3 separate regions of the Homo sapiens genome follow, and all the other regions are linked to region 1. The links come from fine-mapping of genetic effects on gene expression. A gene starts in region 1. Each other region holds a variant in brackets. All regions are shown on one strand. Distances are from middle to middle. Region 1 holds the start of TRANK1 (tetratricopeptide repeat and ankyrin repeat containing 1). Region 2 overlaps TRANK1 (tetratricopeptide repeat and ankyrin repeat containing 1). Region 3 overlaps TRANK1 (tetratricopeptide repeat and ankyrin repeat containing 1).

What was found. PIP is the estimated chance that this variant, and not a neighbour inherited with it, causes the effect. A credible set is the group of variants that fine-mapping cannot tell apart.
Region 2: its variant is the best candidate, but not a certain one, in a credible set for the expression of TRANK1 in whole blood (INTERVAL, PIP 0.68).
Region 3: its variant is the best candidate, but not a certain one, in a credible set for the expression of TRANK1 in whole blood (INTERVAL, PIP 0.84).

What each region holds. Positions count from the first base shown.
Region 1 is chr3:36,943,699-36,946,456 of GRCh38, reverse strand. TRANK1 (tetratricopeptide repeat and ankyrin repeat containing 1) reads left to right here and starts at 1,403. Exons shown (of 24, transcript NM_001329998.2): 1 at 1,403-1,670. The coding sequence starts at 1,648. RefSeq lists an enhancer at 1,236-1,305 and a silencer at 1,536-1,755.
Region 2 is chr3:36,858,153-36,860,910 of GRCh38, reverse strand. It overlaps TRANK1 (tetratricopeptide repeat and ankyrin repeat containing 1), which reads left to right. Exons shown (of 24, transcript NM_001329998.2): 11 at 1-5; 12 at 2,017-2,193. Among named protein-coding and RNA genes, the nearest start is that of LINC02033, 37 kb to the right of the region's middle. The variant G/A (reference allele first, on the strand shown) is at 1,458.
Region 3 is chr3:36,851,958-36,854,715 of GRCh38, reverse strand. It overlaps TRANK1 (tetratricopeptide repeat and ankyrin repeat containing 1), which reads left to right. Exons shown (of 24, transcript NM_001329998.2): 14 at 2,371-2,570. Among named protein-coding and RNA genes, the nearest start is that of LINC02033, 31 kb to the right of the region's middle. The variant T/A (reference allele first, on the strand shown) is at 1,561.

The sequences.
Region 1 (2,758 bases):
TACGCATATTTTTGGGTTTTTTTTTTTTTTTTTGTATTTTTAGTAGAGATGGGGTTTCTCCATGTTGGTCTGGCTGGTCTCAAACTCCCGACCTCAGGTGATCCGCCTGCCTCAGGCTTCCAAAGTGCTGGGATTACGGGTGTGAGCCACCCGCCCGGCCTTGTTTTTGTTTTTAAGCTCCCCAGGTGATTCTATTGTGTAACTAAGGTTGGGAAGCACTGCAGTATAGAGTTTGCATGAGGAAGCTAAGATTGGAAATGTGGGGCAAGATTGTGAAGAAGAATCTCAAATGCCCGGGTACCTAACCTGATCTCTAGGAGACAATGGAGTGCCACTGATGGCTTTTGAACTGTACGTGATTCATCCTGATGTTTGGGGAAGATCAATGCACAGAAATCTCTGTGAGATTCTAGAAGCAAGGAGACCACTAGCTAGACTGAGACTAGTTCACAACGCAGAATGACCAGTGGAGAGAAGTATACTGTGTGCCTTAGGTGTGTCCACGTGTTACCAAAGCCTCTCTGTTTCGCTGAAATGTGTGGTCCCCCTCACTAAAGCTCTGGTGGTGTCCTCCCTGCCACCAGGCAGCCTGGTGTGGTGGTCCCCCAGAAGGATGGGCGAACCACCGGGATGCAGTGTAGGCCGAACCTTGCCCCAGGGGAGGGCGGCGGGCTTAGCTCTCTGATTGGGTGGATTCTCTGGTGTGTAGGAAAGTACTCCCAGGCCCAGAGAAGCTGTGAAGACCAAACCGGCTCCCTAGGCCGAGAACCGCTGGGGAGGTAGCAGCCAGAGGTGGTCCTCTCCGACCCACTACTCTGTCGATCATCACTGGGGAGGTGGAAAGACAAGGCAAGATCCTCATTTTGTTGCCTGCTCAGGCCTGTGCGCACTTACTCTCCATGGACACGACGGTGAGCGTGGAGCAGCCCGCGGTCTCGCTGCCCCCTTCACTCCCGGACCCCCAGCCTCCCCAGAGTGGAGGGGCAAGCACACAGTAAGTACTTGATATTCGCCCGACTCCTGAGCTCCTCATCTGTAGGAGCTAGGGGGCTTGTTCTCCGTACGTCCTTTGTTGGAGGGAGGAACGAGGGAAGGAGAAAACCCACGCTGAGGCCGTTGGCCGATCACTTTCTTTACCTCCCGGACAACATTGATGGGCCCCACTAAGGAAAGCCGAATTCTCGCATGCCCGAGGAGTGTCGGAGGTGGTTGTGCGCCTAGTCCCTCCTGGTAAAGGGTTCGAAGCACTCGTTTATTCAAAGGCGGCCGAGAGCCATACCATTTGCTTGCATGACGGGAGACACCGAAACGCCCCTTTTGAACGCGATGACAAACACCTCCTCCCACTCAGCAGCGACGTGCACGTGACAGTTTTTGGGCTCTCGCAACTACGTGGAAACTTGGAATAGGTCTGCGGCTGCACACCGCCCGGACGCCGGGGTTCCTGCGTCCCCCGCCCCCTCTGATCGCGGCTGGGTAGCCGAGCCGCAGGCAGCTGGGGGCCCCCGAACGCCGCCTCTGCATCGCGCCGCCCCTGCCCCGGGCTCCGGTAGCTTTCGGGCTTCCGCACTGCCCGCCGCGCCCTGCCCACAGGGAAGCGCTTCCCCAGGCGGCGGCGGTCCTGGTGCGGACCCTCCGGCCGCAGCCATGTGGGACCCGCGGGCAGCTAGGTGCGTAGCGGCGCGGGAAGCACTGGGGCATCTCTGGCCTTCCGGGCCCGCCACCCTTCCTGGCGGGAGGCGGCCGCGCGCGGGGACTGGCGACCCTGAGGTAGCGGCCGAACGGGCCCGCCCGGCCATCCCTGTGGGGCCCACAGCCATCTAGGTGCAGACCCGAGCCAGTTGCGCGGGGTCGGTCGCGGGGGACGGCTTCGGCCTTTTCGGTCCGGAGGGACCAGGGCACGCGCTGCGACAGGACTGCGGCGGCGCGCGGCCTGCCTAGCTCCCACCCCGGCATCGAAGCCGCAGCTCTCGGGCCCACCTCCGCATCCTCAGGGGTTCCCGGGGGCTGCCGACAGGTTCCTGACCAGCGAGCGCGCCCCCGGGGCAAGCATTCTTGGCGGGCAGAAACCTGGGAGCGGAGCACAGCGGTGCAAGGGAACCGTGCCAGGCGGGAAGGGCGGAATTTGCGGGGAACTTGGAGCGCGCTGGCCTCTTCCCGGCAGTAGGAGGCCTTCTTCCCTGCCCGCCCGATTGAGGGCTGCTGGGCTGGCTCAAACTGGACTGCACGGTCCATCAGCCTGGGCTCACCGAGTCTAGGGGGAAGGTAGTAGTAGGGACCCAAGGCTGGGAAGCGGAGCCCTTAGAAGCCCTTGCTTCTGCCTCGGAGCGTTTCCGAACCGGAGCTCGGAGTCTGTTGCCTGGGAGGCGCGTTGCGTTTCCTCCCAACTCCCTGTCTCCGTCCCGCGGGGAGCCCTGTGCACTTGCAACCCGGCTGAGATAGAGCCCATCTTTGAGGTGCAGCTCAAGCCACCTTTTCTCCCAGATCGGGGTGTTTCTGGGCAGTTGAAAGCTTTGGTGCTTCCTAGGAAAATTTTTATGGAAGTGTGCAATTTGGAAAATAAAAGAAAAAAAAATTTAAGAAGCAGAAAGAGAATGGGGCTCTGAGGTCTCTAGTTCCCCTATCTGCTCCAACCCAGTTGCTGCTGGCTCAGTTAGTCCTTATGCGGGAAGGAATAGCTGGGATTAAAGCCTTGTGTTCCCAGCGTAGGTATGCGCTCCTGCTCCCTCGTGCTGAGCGTTTTGGGTTCCAGGATCCT
Region 2 (2,758 bases), 86 kb after region 1:
TGGAGGTGAGAGTGACTGGATGCTAAGCGTTGGAGACTTGTCCACATTCTCCACGTGATGGAGTCCAGGCCACTGCCTGCCTTTCCCTTGCTTTTGGAGGCACCATGAAGTTCACCCTCATTGCCTACCCTGTATATTCTTGTTTTGAAACAGTGATGGAGGTTACTGCCCTGTGAGTGAGTTGCCCTTGAGGATCTCTGCATTTTTGTGAATTCCAGTTACTACCTTTCTCTTTTGTATGGGAAACATCAGGTGTTCTCTTTTGTATGGGAAACATCAGGTGTGTGAAGGGTCCTTGGCTCTGGTTTAGCCTACAGCAGTCATTTCCTCCTGACCTCTGGCTAGACTTTGACTTGCAGTGGATATACTGTGTGGATCCTTATCTACTCCTGTGACATTCTTTTCTGATCAACAGATTGGGATTCAAGATGCTTGTTTTTAAAGAAACGGTCAAGTAATTGGTGGGTGGAAGCATCTGCTGCTTTAATGAGAACTATCATGCGTGGCTGGGTGTGTGTCTGGAGTGTGCAGACATCTTGCTGAATTGGCTTTTATTTCCAAGCTGATTTAGAAACACCAACCTCCTCCTACCTCTGTCCCTCACACCTCCACTAATGCCAGTACTAACTGTGTGGCATTGGACATGCCATTTATGACTTCATTTCCTCATTGGTAAAATGGGAATAAATAGGCCCCCTTTTATAGGGTTGTTTTGGATATTAAATAAGTTAATGTGTGCAGGCTTTTAGAAGAGTACCTTGGCTATGTAGTTCTCTGCTTGCTTCGTGCTGTATGAGGAATTGTCTTTTACGAGAAAAAACATTATGTGTTATCAATAACACATAATATGTAAGATATAACAGTGACACACAAGACATTGTGTGTTATCAATAACACATAATATGTAAGATATAACAGTAACACACAAGACATTGTGTGTTATCAATAGCACATTGATCCTTAGCCCTCAAAGTGCCACACACCTTGCAGAGCCTTTAGGTGTTGGCTCCATCCACAGCTTTCAGGAGGTAGGTGGGGTGGCTTCTATAATTTATTTTTTTAAACTCCTTCCTTAAGTGGAGTGTTACTTTCTTTGCCTGGAAACCACAGCTGTCATGGAATTCCTGTTTTATTTCTTGATTCGGCAAGCACTTATAGAGCACATCTCAGGATCAGGTGCTAGGAACCAAGCCCACAGAGGTGAGTGCGCAGCTGCTGGAAGTGTGTGGAGGAGACTGCAGATCTATAGTGGGTGGGTCTGCCTTCTGGTGGAGGTTGGGGAACTTTGATGCAGAGGAGCTGTGTGGACTGAACTAAAAAGAAGGTGATTTCGGGTGGAGAGATGTCAGGGAAGATGGCAGTTGAGAATAGGAGCTCAGTAGAAGCAAGGGATGTGGCATGTTCTCACTCATAAGTGGCTGTTGAACAATGAAAACACATGGACAAAGGGAGGGCAC[G/A]TCACACACCAGGGCCTGTCAGGAGGTGGGGGGTTAGCGGAGGGATAGCATTAGGAGAAATACCTAATGTAGGTGACAGGTTGATGGGTGCAGCAAACCACCATGACACGTGTATACCTATGTAACAAACCTGCACGTTCTGCACATGTATCCCAGAACTTAAAGTATTAAAAAAAAAAAAAAGAAGCAAGGGATGTAGAAAGTGTCCTCACACTGACTGTGTCAGGTATGATGTTAGGTGGGTGTTAGGGTTTCAGTTCTCATGCCCTGTCCTCATGCCAGGACAGTGGGAATGGTGGGAACTATGCTCCTGTGGTGGGGAGCTGGAGAGGAGGCGGGGGTGAGGCCCCCAGACAGGGTGCTTGAAGGAGCTGGGCTTTCACTTTGTGGCTACTGGCAGAAGCCTTTGCCTCCCAGAATGGGTGCTGGTAGGAGGATCTTGGAAGTTAGGTAAACATTAGCTCTTCCCTTGCAACTGAATAACTGAAGCATTCCTTCTCTCGTCAGGCGAGCCAGGCTGTGCCTGCTCACATTGCGCTTCCCTTCTCTCCTCTCCCAGCCTTGCCTGATGGTCTTCAGGAGAGCCAGGAGAGGCCAGTTGTCACGTGCCTGAAACATGAGGACTTCGAGTTGGCTTTCCTTCTCTTGACCAAGGGCGCAGACCCCCGTGCTATTTCTCTCACGGAAGGTGATACTCCTTTGCATGCAGCACTCCACATCTTTCTAGAGATTAAAGGTAAGCCCTTGTTTTTTAAGCAGCCGTCTCCTTGAGGAGGAAGCTGGATATTAGAACTGATGCTATGTTTTCTGGTCTTTCCTTTTGTGTAAACCAGTGATCTGAAAAAGGCCCATTTCTTGGCCAGGCCTGCCCATGTCACCTGGCCCCTCACTTGTAGCATAATGGGAAGAAGTGACCACCATGGTGAGTGGTCAGGGAGGGTTGATGGAGGATTCTAAAGTTCCAGAGTTGGCTGTTGGTAGCTGAAAAATACTTTCCATTTATTTATATCATTTTCAAGGGTCTGCGTATGAAGGATCTTGCTAGAATCTTGTATGGTCATTTCAGGAACTACCATGACATTTGGGCTGGGTAGTTCTTTGTTGTAAGGCACTGTTCTGTGCGTTGTAGGATATTTAGCAGCATCCCTGGCTTCCACCTGCTAGCTGCCAGTGACACTCCCCTAGCTGTGACAATAAAAAATGTCTCTATACATTGCCAAATGTCCCTTGGGGAGTAAATCACCATTGGTTGAGAACCACTGAGCTCTTTAATGGATTTCAGATTTTTTGGGGGAGTTCAG
Region 3 (2,758 bases), 92 kb after region 1:
GTTTCTTAGTTTTTCCCTCTTTCTGTGCCAGGCACAATGCTAAACAGTTTACGTATAGTGCTTAATCTTCATAACACCACTGCGAGGTAAGCATCAGACCCATTTTACAAAGGAGAAACTAAGGTACACAAGTTTAAATAACAGGGTACCAATGCTGGAATATTTCCTTTATGGTTTATAGATACTAACAAATTTATCTCCTTTGGCCGACAAATATCTGTGAACAATATGGAGTATTGCTTTACATGTTTAAAAACTGTAATGGGATCATGCTGGACATATCTTTCTGTAACTGGGTATTTTTGCCTAATGTTATGTTGTTGAGATTTCTTTCTTTCTTTTTTTTTTGTTTTTTTCAGATAGAGTCTTGCTCTGTTGCTCAGGCCGGAGTGCAGTGGCGTGACCTCGGCTCACTGCAACCTCCACCTCCTGGGTTCAAGCAATTCTCCTGCCTCAGCCTCCCAAGTAGCTGGGACTACAGGCGCCTGCCACCATGTCCAGCTAATTTTGTATTTTTAGTAGAGATGGGGTTTCACTATGTTCGTCAGGCTGGTCTTGAACTCCTGACCTGAGGTGATCCACCCACCTCAGGCTCCCAAAGTGCTGGGATTACAGGCGTGAGCCCTCGTGCCCAGCCTGTTGTTGAGAATTTTGCATGTTGATAATGTGGAGTTCTAGTGCATTCATTGAGGTTCACATAGCATAAAAGGCACCCATTTGAAATGTTCAGTTTAGTGTTTTTTAATGTATTCACAAATTGTGTAACTATCACCATCATCTAATTCTAGAACATTTTCAGAAATTAAAAACCCCTCAAAACCCATAATCATAGCAGTTACTACTCATTGTGTCCTTCTTCCCACTCCACGGTGACAACTCATCTTTCTGTTTCTACGGATCTGCCTATTGTGGACATTTCATATGAGTGTAATCATATAATACATGGCCTTTTGTGTCTGGTTTCTTTCACTCAGTTTAATGTCTTTAAGGTTTATCCATGTATAGTATGTATCAGCACTTTATTCCTTTCTATGGTTGAACCATCTTTTGTTTTTTGAGTATGGTTACATCAAAAATTACTTGTCTAGTTCCCTAGAAGGCCATTTAAGTGGATTCTACTGCAACTTTTGTGCCCTTTTCTGATTCTCCTGTTAATGTAGATATATATTTGGCCCCTGCTAACTCCTAATGGGAAGGGAACCACAGTAGAAGCTTATTTGCTTAGATTCAGCAGTTTCCACTTAGGCTTATTGCTTTATATTATATACTTTTAATAACAACAGTATTGGATAGTCACATTTTCCCTTCACTATTTGGTAATAGCAATGGGGATACATATGCCCATTTCATGACGTTCTACCTAGACCATTGTATTCTATCTGGTGTTTGAAAAGGGCACCTGGCTTCTAAGAGTAGTGGAGACACCCAGGAAGGTCTATGTTCAAATCCTATCACTGGGAGATATCTATTAGCTTCTCAGACCTCAGAGTTCCTGTTTGTAAAAGTGCAATTGTCTCATCTGTCTCACTGCATTGTTGTGAGGATTTGTTGTTGTGAGGA[T/A]TAAATGGGATGACTTTTTTGAAGGTGCCTGCTGTATGATAGGCATTAAGCCAATGTCACTATTAACGTCACTTCAGATATTAGAGAAGAAATGGGACCCAGGAATAAATCTCTTTGGAAAATCCTCTCTCCTGCTCTGACATTTTTTCTTAGTGTAATCCTCTCTCAACTGGGTATAAACCTGGGGGAAAAGGGTGATGGAGGCCTTGGTTGCTGTCCTTAGCTCACATGCAGCACTGTTTTTACCATGGTAATATTGGTTCTGTAAGCACCAATGGGAGAGGACAAGGCAATTCTGGTTTTCTTACCAAAGTCAATACCAGCCCCTTATGAGAGCATTCTAACAGCTCTCATTGTTTTTTTTTTTTTTTTTTTTTTTTAATTGAGATGGAGTCTCGCTCTGTCACCCATGCTGGAGTGTGCTGAGGTGTGATCTTGGCTTACTGCAACCTCCGCTTCCTGGGTTCAAGCGATTCTCCTGCCTCAGCCTCCTGAGGTCTCATTGTTTATATTACATTTTTGCCTTGACTCTTCTTTGTGAGGTAATTTTCTCTAATATGAATATAGGTTGGGAATGAGATCCCACAAAACTCTCTCAGCACAGCAACATATCTCTGCCTTCTCATCCCCTGCACCCAGAGAGCTCAGGGCTGCAGAGGTAATCAAATGGGAACTGAAAACGGGCTTGCAATTATACATACTGTAGGGGCCAAACCTGCTTCTCAGGAAAAACATGTCCCCCACCCCAAATAACCAAAAAACTCAGCCATGTTGTTAATTATCCAACTTGGGTTTTCTGTTTCATTCCAGGAATCCTCAATCTGGCATCTGGAGTGGTGGATTTACTTCAGTTCTATTTCCCAGAATCTTTTGATCGCCTTCCAAGGGATTCTGGCCTCTTTGATGGTCCTAAGCCAACTGTTCTGGAGTCTTGTAGTGTAAGCGACTTGGCAATTTTGCTACGAGGGAATAAAAGGAAAACTCAGCCCATTGAATTTGGAGCCCACCAGGTGAGCTGCTTGGGATTTTATGTTTTGAAATAAAAGACAGTTTGCAATTGAAAAAAGTTTGAGAAGCTAAATTATACCACAAAGTAGCATTAAAAATAGTCCCTGTCCCACAGTGGGTGAGTTCCAGAGATGGCTGAGTGACCAAGTGTTTCAATCTTTCCCCTGGCCTGCCTGACCATGTTTATGCT